Linked DNA regions of Homo sapiens: region 2 is linked to region 1. Evidence: fine-mapped QTL for protein levels in blood plasma. A gene starts in region 1. The other region holds a variant in brackets. All regions are shown on one strand. Distances are between the middles of the regions.

Region 1 (9,568 bases):
TCCTGCCTGAGCCTCCTGAGTAGCTGAGATTATAGGCGTGTGCCACCACGCCTAGCTAATTTTTGTATTTTTAGTAGAGACAGGGTTTCACCATATTGGCCAGGCTGGTCTCAAACTCCTGACCTCAGGTGATCCGCCTGCCTTGGCCTCCCAAAGTGCTGTGATTACAGGCGTGAGCCACCACGCCCGGCCATTATTGCTGTTAACCCATGGATTCTCCAGGTTTCATCCATTCATCCGTATGAACTGTTTCCAGTTTGTCAGCTGTTTATAATGTTGTGGTGAACATTCTTATCACAACCTTGGTGGACGTGTGCTTTTCTTTCTCTTGGGTAGTTACTGAAGAGTGGAATTGCCAAATTTGATGGAAAGTTGACATTTAACTTTGAAAGAAAATGCTAAAATGTGTTTTTCCAAAGTGGCCGTACCATGTGACATTCCCACCAGCAGTATAGGAGGGTTCCAGTTTCTCCACATCCTCACCACCTCTTGATTTTTTTTTTTTTTTGAGACAGTCTCCCTCTGGCCAGGCTGGAGTACAGTGGCACGATCTTGGCTCATTGCAACCTCCACCTCCCGGGTTCAAACGATTCTCCTGCCTCAGGCACCCAAGTAGCTGGGACTATAGGCTCATGCCACCACGCCTGGCTAATTTTTGTATTTTTAGTAAAGATGGGGTTTCACCATGTTGGCCAGGATGGTCTCAACCCGCCTCGGCCTCCTAAAGTGCTGGGATGACAGGCGTGAGCCACCGTGCCCAGCAACCAACTCTTGATCCTTGATTTTGTCTTTTTTATACTAGCCATCTGTCTTAGCTGAGGCTGCCATAACAAATTGCCAGAGACTGGGCAGCTTCAACAATGGAAATTCATGTTCTCACAGCGATGGAGGCTGACGTCTGAGACGGAGCTGTCGGCAGGGTTGGAGCTGTTGGCAGGGTTGGCTCCTCCTGAGGCTGCTCCCTGGGTTTGTGGGTGGCCACACCTCCCCGTGTCCTTACATGGTCTTCCCTTTGGCGTATCTGTGTGTTCTCATCTCTTCTTATAAGGACACCAGTCCTGTTGAATTAGGGTCCACCCTAATAACCTTGCTTTACCTTACTTACATCTTTAAAAACCCATCTCCAAATATCGTCATATTCTGAGGGGTTAGGACATCAATGTATGAATTTAGAGGGGACACAGCCCATAACACCGTCCTATAGGAGTGTAGCTGTGGCTTGAGTCCACGTCGCCCTAGTGACAAGTGGTGCTGAACATCTTCTCAGGGTGGAGTCACCATTTGTAAATCATCTATGGTGAAATGTCTGTGCAAATGTTTTGAATATTTTTCAGTTGGGTTGTTTGTCTTTTTATTGTTGAGTTGTAAGAGTTCTTTTTATATTCTGGGTATAAGTCCTTTTCTTTCTTTTTTTTAGTTTTATTATTATTTTTTTGAGATGGAGTCTCACTCTGTCAACCAGGCTGGAGTGCAGTGGTGCAGTCTCATCTCACTGCAACCTCCGCCTCCCGGGTTCAAGCGATTCTCCTGCCTCAGCCTCCCTAGTAGCTGGGACTATAGGCGCCTGCCACCACACCCAGCCAATTTTTGTATTCTTAGTAGAAACGGGGTTTCGCTATTTTGGCCAGGGTGGTCTCGAACTCCTGACCGCGAGTGATCCTCCCGCCTCGGCTTCCCAAAGCGCTGGAATTACAGGCGTGAGCCACTGCACCTGGCCCTTTATTTTTAATTTTTAAAAAGTTTTAATTATTATGGGTACATAATAGGTATATATATCCATGGGGTACACGGATGCCATATGTAATGATCAAACCAGGATAATTGGGGTATCCATAACCCCAAGATTGTATCATTTCTTTGTGCTAACATTCTAATTCCACTCTTTTTTGTTAATTTAAAATATACAACAGGCTAGTCACAGTGGCTCATGCCTGTGGTCCCAGCACTTTGGGAGGCCTGAGTGGGAGGATTGCTTGAGCCCAGGAGTTCGAGACGAGCCTGGGGACCTCGTCTCATTTTACTAAAGACTAGATGTTTTAGATAATATATTGCAAACATTTTGAGTTCTGATATTTTCTCCCAAGGGTTGTTGTTGCTGTTTTGTTGAAATCTGTGGACTTTGTTTCCCCTGTAGCACGTGGCCTGGTGTCTCCGCCCAGTTTTTTAAGCCTATCTTCCTTGAGTCACACTGGGTTGTGTGGTTGGAGGCTGTGCTCAGGCCGCGGGACCCACTCTGCTGGTGCCTCAAGGGTGGGCTGGGGGCCACGCTCTGTGTGGATGCAGTTTTTAAGGTGCCCGACCTTTACTTCCCACCGGCTGTCTCCCGTCTCCTGAGTGTGAATGCACAGACTTGTGTTGGGCCAGAGGAATGGGGAGGTCAGCTGGGACTGTGTGGGAACCTGGGGAGGCTCCCTGTGCCTTTCTCATTCCAGACCTGATCACCCCATTCAAGTTCGGGCTGGCCTGCCAATCACTGCTCATAATCCCCTTGGGGACCCCAGTTCCCTGAGCCACTGGCCTTCTGCTGCCTCCCCCGTGGAGCCACTCGGCCACTGAGGGGTGGGTGGGAGTGTAGCTGCCCAACAGGCTCATTCTGCTTGCTGCCCAGAGAGAGCCGATTTATCAGGGCAGAGAGAAACTGCAACACGGAAAGTTTAATTCACGCGGAGCCGGCTGAACGGGAGGCTGGAGCTTTATCACTACTCAAATTTTAAAGGATAATTTGGTGGGTAGGGGTTGGGAAGCAGGGAGTGCTGATCGGTTGGGTTGCAGATGAAATCACAGGGAGTCGAATCTGTCCTCTTGTGCTGAGTCACTTCCTGAGTGGGGGCCACAAGACCAGGTGAGCCAGTTCATGGATCTGGGTGGCACCAGCTGTTCCACCAAGTTCAGAGTCCGAAAAATGTCTCGAGCACCAATCTTAGGATTTACAATAGTGATGTTTTCCCTAAGAATAATTGGGGAGGCTTAGAATCTTGTGGCCTCCAGCTGCCTGACTCCTTTTTTTTTTTTTTTTTTTTTTTTTGAGACGGAGTCTCGCTCTGTCACCCAGGCTGGAGTGCAATGGCGTGATCTCTGCTCACTGCAAGCTCCGCCTCCCAGGTTCAGGCCATTCTCCTGCCTCAGCCTCCCGAATAGCTGGGACTACAGGCGCCTGCAACCACGTCCGGCTAATTTTTTGTATTTTTAGTAGAGACGGGGTTTCACCATGTTAGCCAGGATGGTCTTGATCTCCTGACCTCGTGATCCGCCTGCCTCGGCCTCCCAAAGTGCTGGGATTACAGGCGTGAGCCACCGCGCCCGGTCCTGCCTGACACCTAAAACATAATTTCTTTTTTATTTTTCATGAAAGCCACTGACTTTCTTGATCTAAAAAACTTTACAAGGACAGTGACTGTTCTGCCAAAAAAGGAGCCAAATAGTATCAAATGGACTGAAAGTGAGGGTGGAGGTGAGGGACGGGGCCAGGAATCCATTCAGGAAAGCTGGTAACTGTCACCAGGGAAAGTGAAAAAGGAAGGGGGAGACATGCAAGAGTGAGAGTCCAAAAAAGTTGAAATGGTTAGGGGAGAAAACTCCCAAAAGACCCAGAGTGCGTCAGACGTGAGTATGACAATAGCAATCTTCTCCTTTGTAGAGGACAGGGGAGGAGTCCCGACTCGGCTACAAACTCTGGGTGAGGGCTGGGGATTGAGAGCTTCCTGGAGAGCATCACAAGAAGGCATCGCATGCTCTCGAAGGCATCCGAAGTCCCGGGACTGCTTGGTGTTGGCACCACGAGTCCTTTGGCCATTCCCGGAACAGGTCTTCATCTTTCCTCAGCACCAGAAACTGGCCAAGGACAACATAGGCCTTGTCAAAGCCCCTTTCCTCCAGCTTCTTGCCCAGGACTTCACCAATCCTGGCCAGGCTCCCCACTAGCTTTTCCCCCATGGGCTCTGCCCTGAAGTCTCGGTGCTTTTGGGAGGTTGGCATCTTGATCAGGCTTAATCGGCAACTTCAGTTCCCGTAACGGTTCCTCCCGCCACCCGGCCGCTCCGGCCGATACCTCAAGCCACTAGAAGTTTCCTAAACCATAATTTCTAATCTTGTGACTAATTTGTTAGTTTTACAAAGGCAGTCTGGTCCCCAGGCAAGAAGGGGGTTTGTTCAGGAAGGGGCTGTTTTCATCTTTGTTTCAACATTAAACTATAAACTAAGATCCTCCCAAAGTTGGTGTGACCTACACCCAGGAATGAACAAGGACAGGTTGGAGGTTAGAAGCAAGGTGGAGTCGGTTAGGTCAGATTCACTATCAGGTTTTCGCAAAGGTGGTTTCAGGAGCAGCCCCAGGCAAGAAGGCCAGAGGAACATCTGTTCTCACCCAAGCCCAGCGGCTTCTTCGGGTGACCCCTCCTCAATAGCTCAGACGCTGTGGGTCACGTTGGAAATTCCTGAGTTGGCCTTTCTTGAGGGCCCTCACTCCACCCCCTTGGAAGCACGGCCTCCAATTGTGTCTGAACATGCAGCTTCGGGAGAACCATACCCTGCAGGCCGGCGGTCTCAGAGCCCCCAACAGTAGCTGCCCGCTGGGGGTTGTCGAGGAAAAGAGTGAAACCCTGTAAAATACTTGGAGAGTGATTCTGAGCCAAATATGAGTGACGGAAGGCCCATGATGCCGTCCCAGGAGATCCTGAGAACATGTGTGGCCCGAGAGGGTTGGGGTGCAGCTGGTTTGATACATGTTCGGGACACGAGACATCACTCAGTACGTGGGAGATGTACATGGGTTTGGTCCAGAAAGGCGGCGGGTGTCCAGGTCATTGGTGGATTCAGTAATTTTCCAATTGACAATTGGTCAAAAGAGTTAAGTTATTATCTAAAGACCTAGAATCAATAGAAGGGAAAGTCAGGGTTAAGATAAGGTGTTGTGGAGACCAAGTATATGCAGATAGAATCAATAAAAGGGACTATTTCTTGTCAGAGTCTGTTCTATTAGTCTTAAGGTCTCTGTTTTAATGTTAATGCTGGTCAGTTTTGCCTGAATTCCAAAAGGAGGCGGGTACAATGAGGCCTGTCTGACCCCCACTTCCCATTATGGCCTGAACTAGTTTTCAGGTTAACCGTGGAATGCCCTGGGCTTAGGGAGGGTCCATCAGTCGGGTGGGGTCAGGCGGAGATTGGAATTGTGTTTTTGTTTTACAGGGTGTGCCAGGGACGGCTAAAGAAGGTGGTCAGGGCCGGGCGCAGTGGCTCATGCCTGTAATCCCAGCACTTTGGGAGCCCGAGGCAGGCGGATCACTTAGGTCAGGAGTTCGAGACCAGCCTGGGCAACATGGCGAAACCTCGTTTCTATTAAATATACAAAAATTAGCTGGGCGTGTTGGTGCACACCTGTAGTCCCATCTACTCAGGAGGCTGAGGCGGGAGAATCACTGGAACCCAGGAGGCGGAGGTTGCAGTGAGCTGAGATCGCGCCACTGCACTCCAGCCTGGGTGACAGAGTGAGACTGTCTCAAAAAAAATAAAATAAAAAAGGCAATGAGGGCACTGGGCCCCGTGGAGCGGGCCCTGGCCACACAGCGTGCAAGACTCCTCAGGCTGGTGTGCCCAGTAAGGAAGGACAGGAGGGAGCGCCTGGAAGGGGTGGGGAAGGTGGTGGCGTTGGGGGTGAGGGTTCCACGGTGGTGGAGCTGAGCTGGTCCCGCCCTGCCGCAGGTGGTGGGCAGGGGCAGGTGTGACAGGCAGGTGGGCTGGGGCTGGATGGGGGATTTGTCACGCCCACCTGAGGAAGGAAGTGCTTCAGCTGAGCTGGGGACAGCTGCCCACGACACCCTTCCAAGTTGCCTTGGTTGTGAGCACGGTTCAGCCTTCATGACAAGCAGGTTTTTTTTTTTTGGTGTTGTTTTGTTTTGTTTTGTTTTTTGACTGAGTTTCGCTCTTTGTTGCCCAGGCTGGACTGCAGTGGCGCAATCTCGGCTCACTGCAACCTCCGCCTCCCAGGTTCAAGCAATTCTCCTGCCTCAGCCTCCTGAGTAGCTGGAATGACAGGAGCCCACCACCACGCCCACTTAATTTTTTTTATTTTTAGTAGAGACGGAGTTTCACTATGTTGGCCAGGCTGGTCTCAATCCCCTGACTTCAGGCAATCCACCTGCCTCAGCCTCCCAAAGTGCTGGGATTACAGGTGTGAGCCACCGCGCCCGGTCAACAAGCATGTTTTTAAAGGCAAATTTCTTCCTCAGTCGTGTGGCAGGCCCTGAGCAGGCAGCTGGGTGTCCCCGCTCAGATCCAGGCCCGAGTGGGCTGGGCGGCTGCAGAGCCAGTCACCTGAGCTACCCAGGGTGGGATCCCTGGCCCCGACCTCTGTCCTGACACGCCCCAAGCGGCAGCAACAAAGCCCCAATTGGCCTGGGCCTGGGCAGGAGGAGCTGGGCCGGGTGCCAGATACTGGGATCAGCCACTGCAGCTCCCTGAGCACTCTCTACAGAGACGCGGACCCCAGACATGAGGAGGTAATGCCACCATCCCTGAGCCCCAATCCCCACCCCACCCAAACCTGGAGGCCTGGCCCTTAGCCAGAGGGGGCCCAGCTGTGCTGCGCTCCAGGGGGCCTGGTTCAGGGGAGTGTGCGGGTGGGAGGGAGAAGGAGGGGCCCTCTGAGGGTCTGGGGTCTGCCACCAGGCTCTACCTCCTCTGTGGCCCCGAGTGCACTTGCCTCTTGGTTCCCCTGGCCTGGTGGAGAATCACCCAGGGACCCCCACCCGGAACAAGGAAAGGGGAGGTGCCAGGCTGAAACCAGCAGGCCTGTGACTGCCCAAAAGGAAGGGGGCTGGGGGAGGGGAGGGGCTGGGGCGCAGGAGCCAGGGGCTGCCCTGAGGTGGTGTCACCCTGGGAGCTGTGATCTGGAGCTCAGGGAAGCACCCGGGCTCCCGCTGGACCCTGGAATCAGAGGCTGCCTTCCTTCTGTGGGGGTGTCTGTCTTCCCCCTCCTTGTGTGGGGGACCCCTCTCCCCGCTCCTGTGGAGGTGCCCTCCTCCTCTTCCCCCTCCTCTAAGCCAGGGCCCTCCCTGCCCCTCCTCTCCTGGTGTTTCTCCCTTGTAGAGAGGTGGCTTCTGGGTAGCTTGGGGACCCTTTGGTGCCCAGAGCCGTTTGCCTGGAGAGGGGACCCACGGGGATCCCACAGCCAGGCTGCTTGGCAGTCACCACCGACCACCTTTCTAGGGGCTACCGTGACCCGAATCCCAGGCCCCCAGGCTGTGTGTCATGGGAGGTGGGCACCAGGGGTGGCCCAGGCAGCACGGCAGTGGGATTGGGGTCCAGTGCCCAGACAAGAGCCCCTGCCCAGCATCAGAACCAGCTGGGGGTCCTGAGGAGAAGCAGGGCCCCCGAACCAGACCAGACCAGGTCCCGGCCCCGGGCTGTCCGGGGCATCCCCCCTGCCCTTTGACCTCTCACCATGGCTGAGTCACCCAGAGAACGGGCAAAGGTCCCTGTGGAGCTGCAATCCAGGCCTGCAGGGTGTCCCAGACACTGATTCTTCTGCCTCAGCAGGAGTAGCTGCGATTACAGGTGTGTGCCACCACCCCCAGCTAAGTTTTGTTTTTTTTTTTTTGAGACAGAGTGTCTCGCTCTGTCGCCCAGGCTGGAGGGACTGCAGTGGCGCCATCTTGGCTCATTGAAACCTCCACCTCCCAGGTTCAAGTGATTCTCCTGCCTCAGCCTCCCAAGTAGCTGGGATTACAGGCACCTGCCACCACGCCTGGCTAATTTTTTTTTTTTTTTTTTTGTATTTTTAGTAGAGACAAGTTTTCACCATATTGGCCAGGCTGGTTTCGAATGCCTAACCTCAAGTGATCTGTTGCCTCAGCCTCCCAAAGTGCTGGGATTACAGGCGTGAGTCACCGTGCCCAGGCAGTTTCATATTTTTAGTAGAGACGGAGTTTTGCCATGTTGGCCAGGCTGGTCTCAAACTCCTGACCTCAGGTGATCTGCCCACCTCAGCCTCCCAAAGTGCTGGGATTATGGGTGTGAACCACTGCGCCTGCCCCAGACACCCTTGACTGCAGCCCTGCTGAGCCCTGTACAGACCCAGAGCCCCGCCCCACCCCAAGACCACCCCACCCTGACAGACGCAAGCCTCCCCCGCAGGGCCCTGAAGAGACAAGTCTGCACCACATCACACACGCACGCACACACAGACACACTCCCAAACCCTCACACTCTACACACCACACACGCATGCACACAGCACACACCCACCCCCAAACCCTTACGCTCCACCCCACACACAACATACATACACATCCAACACATACATGCACACACAGCACACACACACACCCAAGCCCACACACTCCACACCACACACAACATACACACACATCCACCACACACAAACACACATAACATACACACACAGCACACGCACCCCCGAACTCACACACTCCGCACCACACACAACATACACATGCACCACACACTGAAGCACACAGTGCACACACACCCGAACACGACACCACCCACAGCATACATGCACACCCACCATGCACATGGTCCACACCCACAAAACACACATGCACAGACAACATATGCACACCCCCCACCACATACACAAACACACACATCCCGTGTCCGAACTGACCTGACACCCTGCCTGCCTGCCTAATAGTGCTGCCATTCACCCCTGAGCCCCCCAGCCGTGGCCCCGCAGCTCTGGGACACAGCAGGTGCCCTGCCTGCAGCAGCGTGCAGCCTCAGGGCTCTGTGGGCGTGGGGCTGTGGGCCCTCGCTGCTCCATACCCACCCATACCCACACCCATGTGCAAGTGTGTTCATGTGTGTCCCCACGTGGAGGGCGGCACAGAGGCATGGCAGAACCTCTGGAGTTTCCAAGCCAACCACCAGTGCCTGCCACAGTGGGGTCTGCCCAGACTGTGAGGAGCAGAGTCTGGGGCTGGGGCTGTGGGCTCTGGCCTGAGGGGGGCTGGAGGCAGGTGGGCCTGGGGCTTCTCCCTGTTCTGTGCCTGCGTGTCTTGGCCCATGTGAGCACAGTCCAGTAAAACTACCTGCGCTCCCAAGGAGGAACCCAGCCCAGGCCTCCCAGCTGCCCATCAGGGTGCTGCCTGGAGTTCAGGGCGTCCCCTTCCCCTACCTCACACTTCCCTCTCTGGCCCCCCCTCAGGCTCCTCCTGGTCACCAGCCTGGTGGTTGTGCTGCTGTGGGAGGCAGGTGCAGTCCCAGCACCCAAGGTAGGTGTGAGCCCCTCCCATCTGGGCAGCAACTCCAGTTGTCACCTTCTGCCCCTACAGCAGGGGATGTGGACAAAGGGCCCCTCTTCTGGCTTCAAACCCCAAGCTGGCTTAGGGGAGAGAGGCATGGGTACGCTCATGACTCTTGATGCCTGTGCAGGCATGAGGAGGGGGCAGGCTTCCCTTCCCTGGGGTCAGATGGACAGGCCTCAAGACACCCAGGTGGTCCTAGGTGGATGATGTGGGTCCAGATGAGCCCACATGACCCCAGGTGGACGAGGTGGGTCCAGATGAGCCCCCGTGACCCCAGGTGGAGGAGGTGGGCCCGGATGACACCC
Region 2 (4,775 bases), 15 kb after region 1:
GCGCCAGCGCGTAGAGCAGCTCGGGGGACAGCAGTGCGGGGACACCCTTCAGCGCCACCATGGCCCGGCAGACGGGGCGGGCGGGGCCTAGGGGCGGGGCTTGGGGGCCGGGGCGGGGCCTTACGGGGAGGGCGGGGCTTGGGGGCAGAGGCGGGGGCCTTACGGGGAGGGCGGGGCTTAGGGGCAGAGGCGGGGCTTTACGGGGAGGGCGGGGCTTTATTGGAGGGCGGGGCTTTAGGGTCCCGGGCTTGGGGCTTGGGGACGGGCCGGGCCTAGGGTTCGGCGGGCTGGGGTCCGCTTGCGGCTCAAGGAAGGGCGGGGAGCCCCAGGAACTGGGGACGTGCGGGCTGAGTCGTGGCGTGGGGGCAACACCCAGCCAGCCCACGGGCTCCTCGCCAGGTCCGAGACTCGGGTGCCCTTGCGCTGTGGCCGGGGGCTCCCCAGTGTCCCTACCCGAGCCTCCCACCCCGAGCTCCCTCAGGCCGAAGGGGTTCAACCGCCGCGGCCTCCCCTCATGAGGGTCTCTGCCCTCTGACCACTTCGTGCTGCCCTTAGGCCTGGCAGAATGCCCGGAGCGCACCGGGTCCCTGGGGTCACCATGGTGGGTAGCTGGACCCAGGCCTTCAGCCCACGCTCCTGAGGGACCGGGAGCAAGGGACACGGGAGCCAGGACTTCGGACCCCCTTGGGGGGAGTCCAGGAGGGCAGCCAGGCCCAGCTTCCAGGCTCAGCTGCGAAGTGCCAGGACACCTAAGGGTCCTCCATCATCCCCCGGTGTCAGCGGCCTGCAACCCCCTGCCCAGGATGGCGGCATCCTGACCTTTGGCTGAGCTCAGGCTGGCCAGGCCCTCCCTCCGCGGAACCACCTTCTTCCACATGATTCCCAGCTGGACACCAGCTGTGGGGCTAGCACTGCGGCCCTGGCCCTCAGCCCTGAGGTGACACAAATGCTCTGAGGCCTGGCGGCTCCTAAAAAGTTCTGAAAATCAATCTGTATGTGAAAAATGACAAAGCCGCGTCAGAAAACCAGGAGGAAACAGACGTCTCCATGTTGAACTGCTTGGCCCTAGGAGCCTGTCCCCATGGGAAGTGGCCTGGGCTGCGTCGGAAAAGCCTGGTGGGGCCACCCAGGCTGGCACCCAGCAGCACCTGAACAGCTGGCCCTGGGCCGGCCACTCGGGCAGAGAGAAGACCGGGGCTGCCCAGGGCCTGCCAATGAGGGGTGGCTTTGCACCGAGGCCACCGGGTTTCAGAGCTGTACCTGGGCAGTTTCTACTCCAACTTGTAAGTGGAGAGTCACCGTTTACCCAAATATACAAGGGCAAGAGGATTTTATAGAGATGGGCAAGAAAGTTTTCAGCTTCAAAACCAAATCAGGCCGGGCGCGGTGGCTCACACCTGTGATCCCAGCACTTTGGGAGGCCGAGGCGGGCGGATCACTTGAGGTCAGGGGTTGGAGACCAGCCTGGCCAACATGGTGAAACCCCGTCTCTTCAAAATATACAAAAATTAGCCAGGCATGGTGACTGGTGCCTGTAATCCCAGCTACTTGGGAGGCTGAGGCACGAGAATTGCTTGAACCCGGGAAGCGGAGGGTGCAGTGAGCCGAGATCACTCCACTGCTCTCCAGCCTGGGTGACAGAAAGTGACTCCGTCTCAAAAAAAAAAACAAAACCAACAAAGAAAAAACACCTAATCAAACCCCAAACAATAATGGGGCCAGAGGTCAACTAGCTCAGGAGTGAGTGGAAGCCTCACTCTGAGTCTGGGGTTCCCCTGCCCCGGACAGTGGCACCCCTCCCTCCAGGCTCCCTGGGGCCAGCATGAAGACAAAGTCCATTCCCCAGCCTAAGGGTTGGGTGTCTGTCCCTGCCAAGCTCTGGAACCAGATAACTAGACGCAGCCCTCTGAGATGCGGCTTCCATGCTGGGCCCTTTCTTGGCTTCCAGCCAAGTGTGGCTGACACAGGTATGAACGTGAGGCTGCAGCCAGCCCTACGGATCTCTGAGGTTCCATTGCTTGAAATCAGATTATGGAGGCTGACCCCAGTGCACATGAAAAATTAAACGGAGTGGATTTTCTCAATGTTCAGGCTTCCTCCCTTGCATACTTGAACATTTGGTGCCTATCTATCTCTGCATATTTACTCCAGGCTCCAGGGCCAGTGGTTCATGACCCACGCAGACTCCACGTGCTCCACTCCAGTAAGTGAGCAGGTTCCAGATTCCCTACCCCAAGGGAAGAGCCTGTTATGCCCTGTTGGACCTGAATCAAACTCCCTTTGTACCTGTTTCAGTATTTGTCAAACAGTCCCAGATCCCAAGGCTTATCTGAGGCTTATCTGAAAAGAACATCTCCCGCCTGTTTTAAGGCCAACTGCATGAGAACTCCCACCTGCCCTGGCAGAAGCGAGATAAACCTGCTCCACCCTGAAGCCGGCTCTGAACTAGTGGACTCCAATCACAGCACACAGGAGGACAGACGGGGTGGGTGGGAGTGCAGAGCCAATGCCTCCGAGGCAAGCGGTCGCAGAGCATGCGTGTGTCCCCTTTGCGTGTACATGTAACCGGACACACGGGCGTGGCACCTGCAGCGTTCAGGGAACCAGAGCTCGGCAAAGATCACTGTTCTTCTTTCTTGATGCAGGTGAACCTGTCCTTGGTATTCAGCCCAAGTCCTCAGCGGTGGGGGCTCACACACTCTGCCCACCCAACCCAAGGCCATGACCACAATCTAGACCACCTACGCACACTGAGCTGCGGGGCCAAGTGGAGGAGACACCGGCAAACGCTCTCTGGCGTCTGCACTGAGCTGGGGGCAGGTGGGCTTCCCTGGGGGAAATACCTAGAACCAAGGGCATGATGACATGTCCATAGTATGAAACGTCAGGGCCACTAAAAAGAATGTTATAGGACTGTCATTTAGTGAGAAAATCAAATGGTGAAACATGCCACAACAGGCACAAACCTTCTGGACAGTATGTGCCTTAGCTTGGGCTGCTGTGATGCAGTGGCATGGTCTGGGTGGCTGATAAACACTGACTTTCCACAGTTCTGGAGGCCAAGGCTCCAGGCAGGTTCGGTGTGTGATGAGGCCCACCCTGGTTTACAGACAGCACCTTCCCACAGAGCACTCACATTGTGGGAGGGGTGAAAGAGTGCCCTCAGGGCTCTCCTAAGGGCAGTAATCCCACTGGAGGAGCTCCGCCCCCTCATAGGGCACTAATCCCACTGGAGGAGCTCCGCCCTCTCATAGGGCACTAATCCCACTCAAAGAGCTCCATCTTCTCATAGGGCAGTAATCCCACTGGAGGAGCTCCGCCCTCTCATAGGGCACTAATCTCACTGGAAGAGCTCCATCCTCTCATAGGGCACTAATCCCACTGGAAGAGCTCTGCCTTCTCTTAGGGCATTAATCCCACTGAAGGAGCTCCGCCCTCTCATAGGGCACTAATCCCACTCAAAGAGCTCCGCCCTCTCACAGGGCACTAATCCCAAAGAGCTCTGCCCCCTCATAGGGCACTAATCCCACTTGAAGAGCTCTGCCCTCATAGGGCACTAATCCCACTGGAGGAGCTCCGCCCCCTCATAGGGCACTAATCCCACTGGAGGAGCTCCACCCTCTCTCTCCTAGGACACTAAACCCACTCGAAGAGCTCTGCCCTTGTGACTAGTCATTGCCCAAAGTCCCCCCTCCTAATGCAGTCACGGTAGGGGTTAGGATTTCAACCCAGGGATTTGGGGTGGGGCTGAGTGAAATGAGCCTGACCCAAAGGGATAAATGGAGGTCCCTCCATAGAGACAGGAAGTAGAAGCGTGGGTGCCAGGAGCTGGAGGGAAGCAGAAAAGGGGTTGTTGTTTAACGGGGACAGTTTCCGTTTGGGAAAATGAAAGCTTTCTTGGATAGTCATGGCTGCACAACGAGAACGTACTTAATGCCGCTGAAATGTGCATTTGAAATGGTTCAGACCAGCCTGGGCAACACGGGGAAACCCCGTCTCTACAAAAGGTAAATTTAAACAGTCAGCTGGGTGTGGGAGTGCGCCCCTGTGGTCCCAGCTACTTGGGAGGGGGGGAGGATCACTTGAGCCCAGGAGATTCAAGCTGCAGTGAGCTGTGACTGAGCCACGCACTCCAGCCCGTCTCTAAAACACAGTGGTTAAGATGATCAAGTTGACGTCGTGTGTTCCCACAGTAGAGAAGAATGCAGTAAACTGAACAGAGAGCTCCTTATGACAGAAGTAGGAAGAAAATAGGGTGGGCTCTCGTGAGGAAAGGGCTCGACGTGAGTGGGCGTGGAAGAAAACCATAGACCATGCCTGTGCCCGTGTGCAGGGGTGTGTGGGTGCGTGCACAGAACTCTAGGAAGTCACAAGCCCAGCTGTTCACAGTGGC[T/C]ACCCTGGAAGTATGATGTGAGGCAACTGACTATACAAACTTGTTTTGTTTGAATGTTGTTCCTTACAGTGAAAAAACAAAAAAGTTTAAAAAAACAACTAACATGACAGAATGCTCATTGCAGACATGACTACAAGGCGTGGTGTAATCTGAATCGCTATCACTTTAATCAGCATCTGTATGAAGGCAGCAGACAGCGTTTCCCTCAGAGCAGCCCCATTCTTCAGCGGCAGGGACACAAGGACCCGCAGGCCCCGCTTTCCGTCCGAGCACAGCATGCCCAGAGGGACCAGCGGGGGCTCCTCAGCAGAATCTTAGATTTAGAAGGTGCTCCAGTCAGGACCCTCACAGGCTGGGTGACGAAGGCTGTCATGCCGTGAGA

Which allele goes with the higher level. Alleles are on the strand shown, and positions count from the first base shown. The strength of an association depends on the size of the effect and on how common the allele is.
With allele T in place of C in region 2, the plasma level of the protein whose gene starts at base 6,442 in region 1 is higher (moderate association).

Evidence for each region. PIP is the chance, under the fine-mapping model, that this variant and not a neighbour inherited with it causes the effect. Protein levels are from antibody-based Olink assays in UK Biobank. Linkage for the fine-mapping came from a reference panel and not from the study's own genotypes, which makes the PIPs less certain.
Region 2: its variant is fine-mapped to the plasma level of the PRAP1 protein (UK Biobank, PIP above 0.99).

Annotation. Positions count from the first base shown.
Region 1 is chr10:133,340,932-133,350,499 of GRCh38, forward strand. PRAP1 (proline rich acidic protein 1) reads left to right here and starts at 6,442. Exons shown (of 5, transcript NM_145202.5): 1 at 6,442-6,494; 2 at 9,164-9,230. The coding sequence starts at 6,487. ZNF511-PRAP1 (ZNF511-PRAP1 readthrough) reads left to right here. Exons shown (of 9, transcript NM_001396060.1): 6 at 9,164-9,230. It also overlaps the pseudogene BANF1P2. RefSeq lists enhancers at 5,808-6,467, 6,468-7,127, 7,128-7,787.
Region 2 is chr10:133,357,947-133,362,721 of GRCh38, forward strand. It overlaps FUOM (fucose mutarotase), which reads right to left and starts at 73. Exons shown (of 6, transcript NM_001098483.3): 1 at 1-73. The coding sequence starts at 61. It overlaps ECHS1 (enoyl-CoA hydratase, short chain 1), which reads right to left. Exons shown (of 8, transcript NM_004092.4): 8 at 4,539-4,775. RefSeq lists silencers at 1-171, 222-301, 1,334-1,496. The variant T/C (reference allele first, on the strand shown) is at 4,394.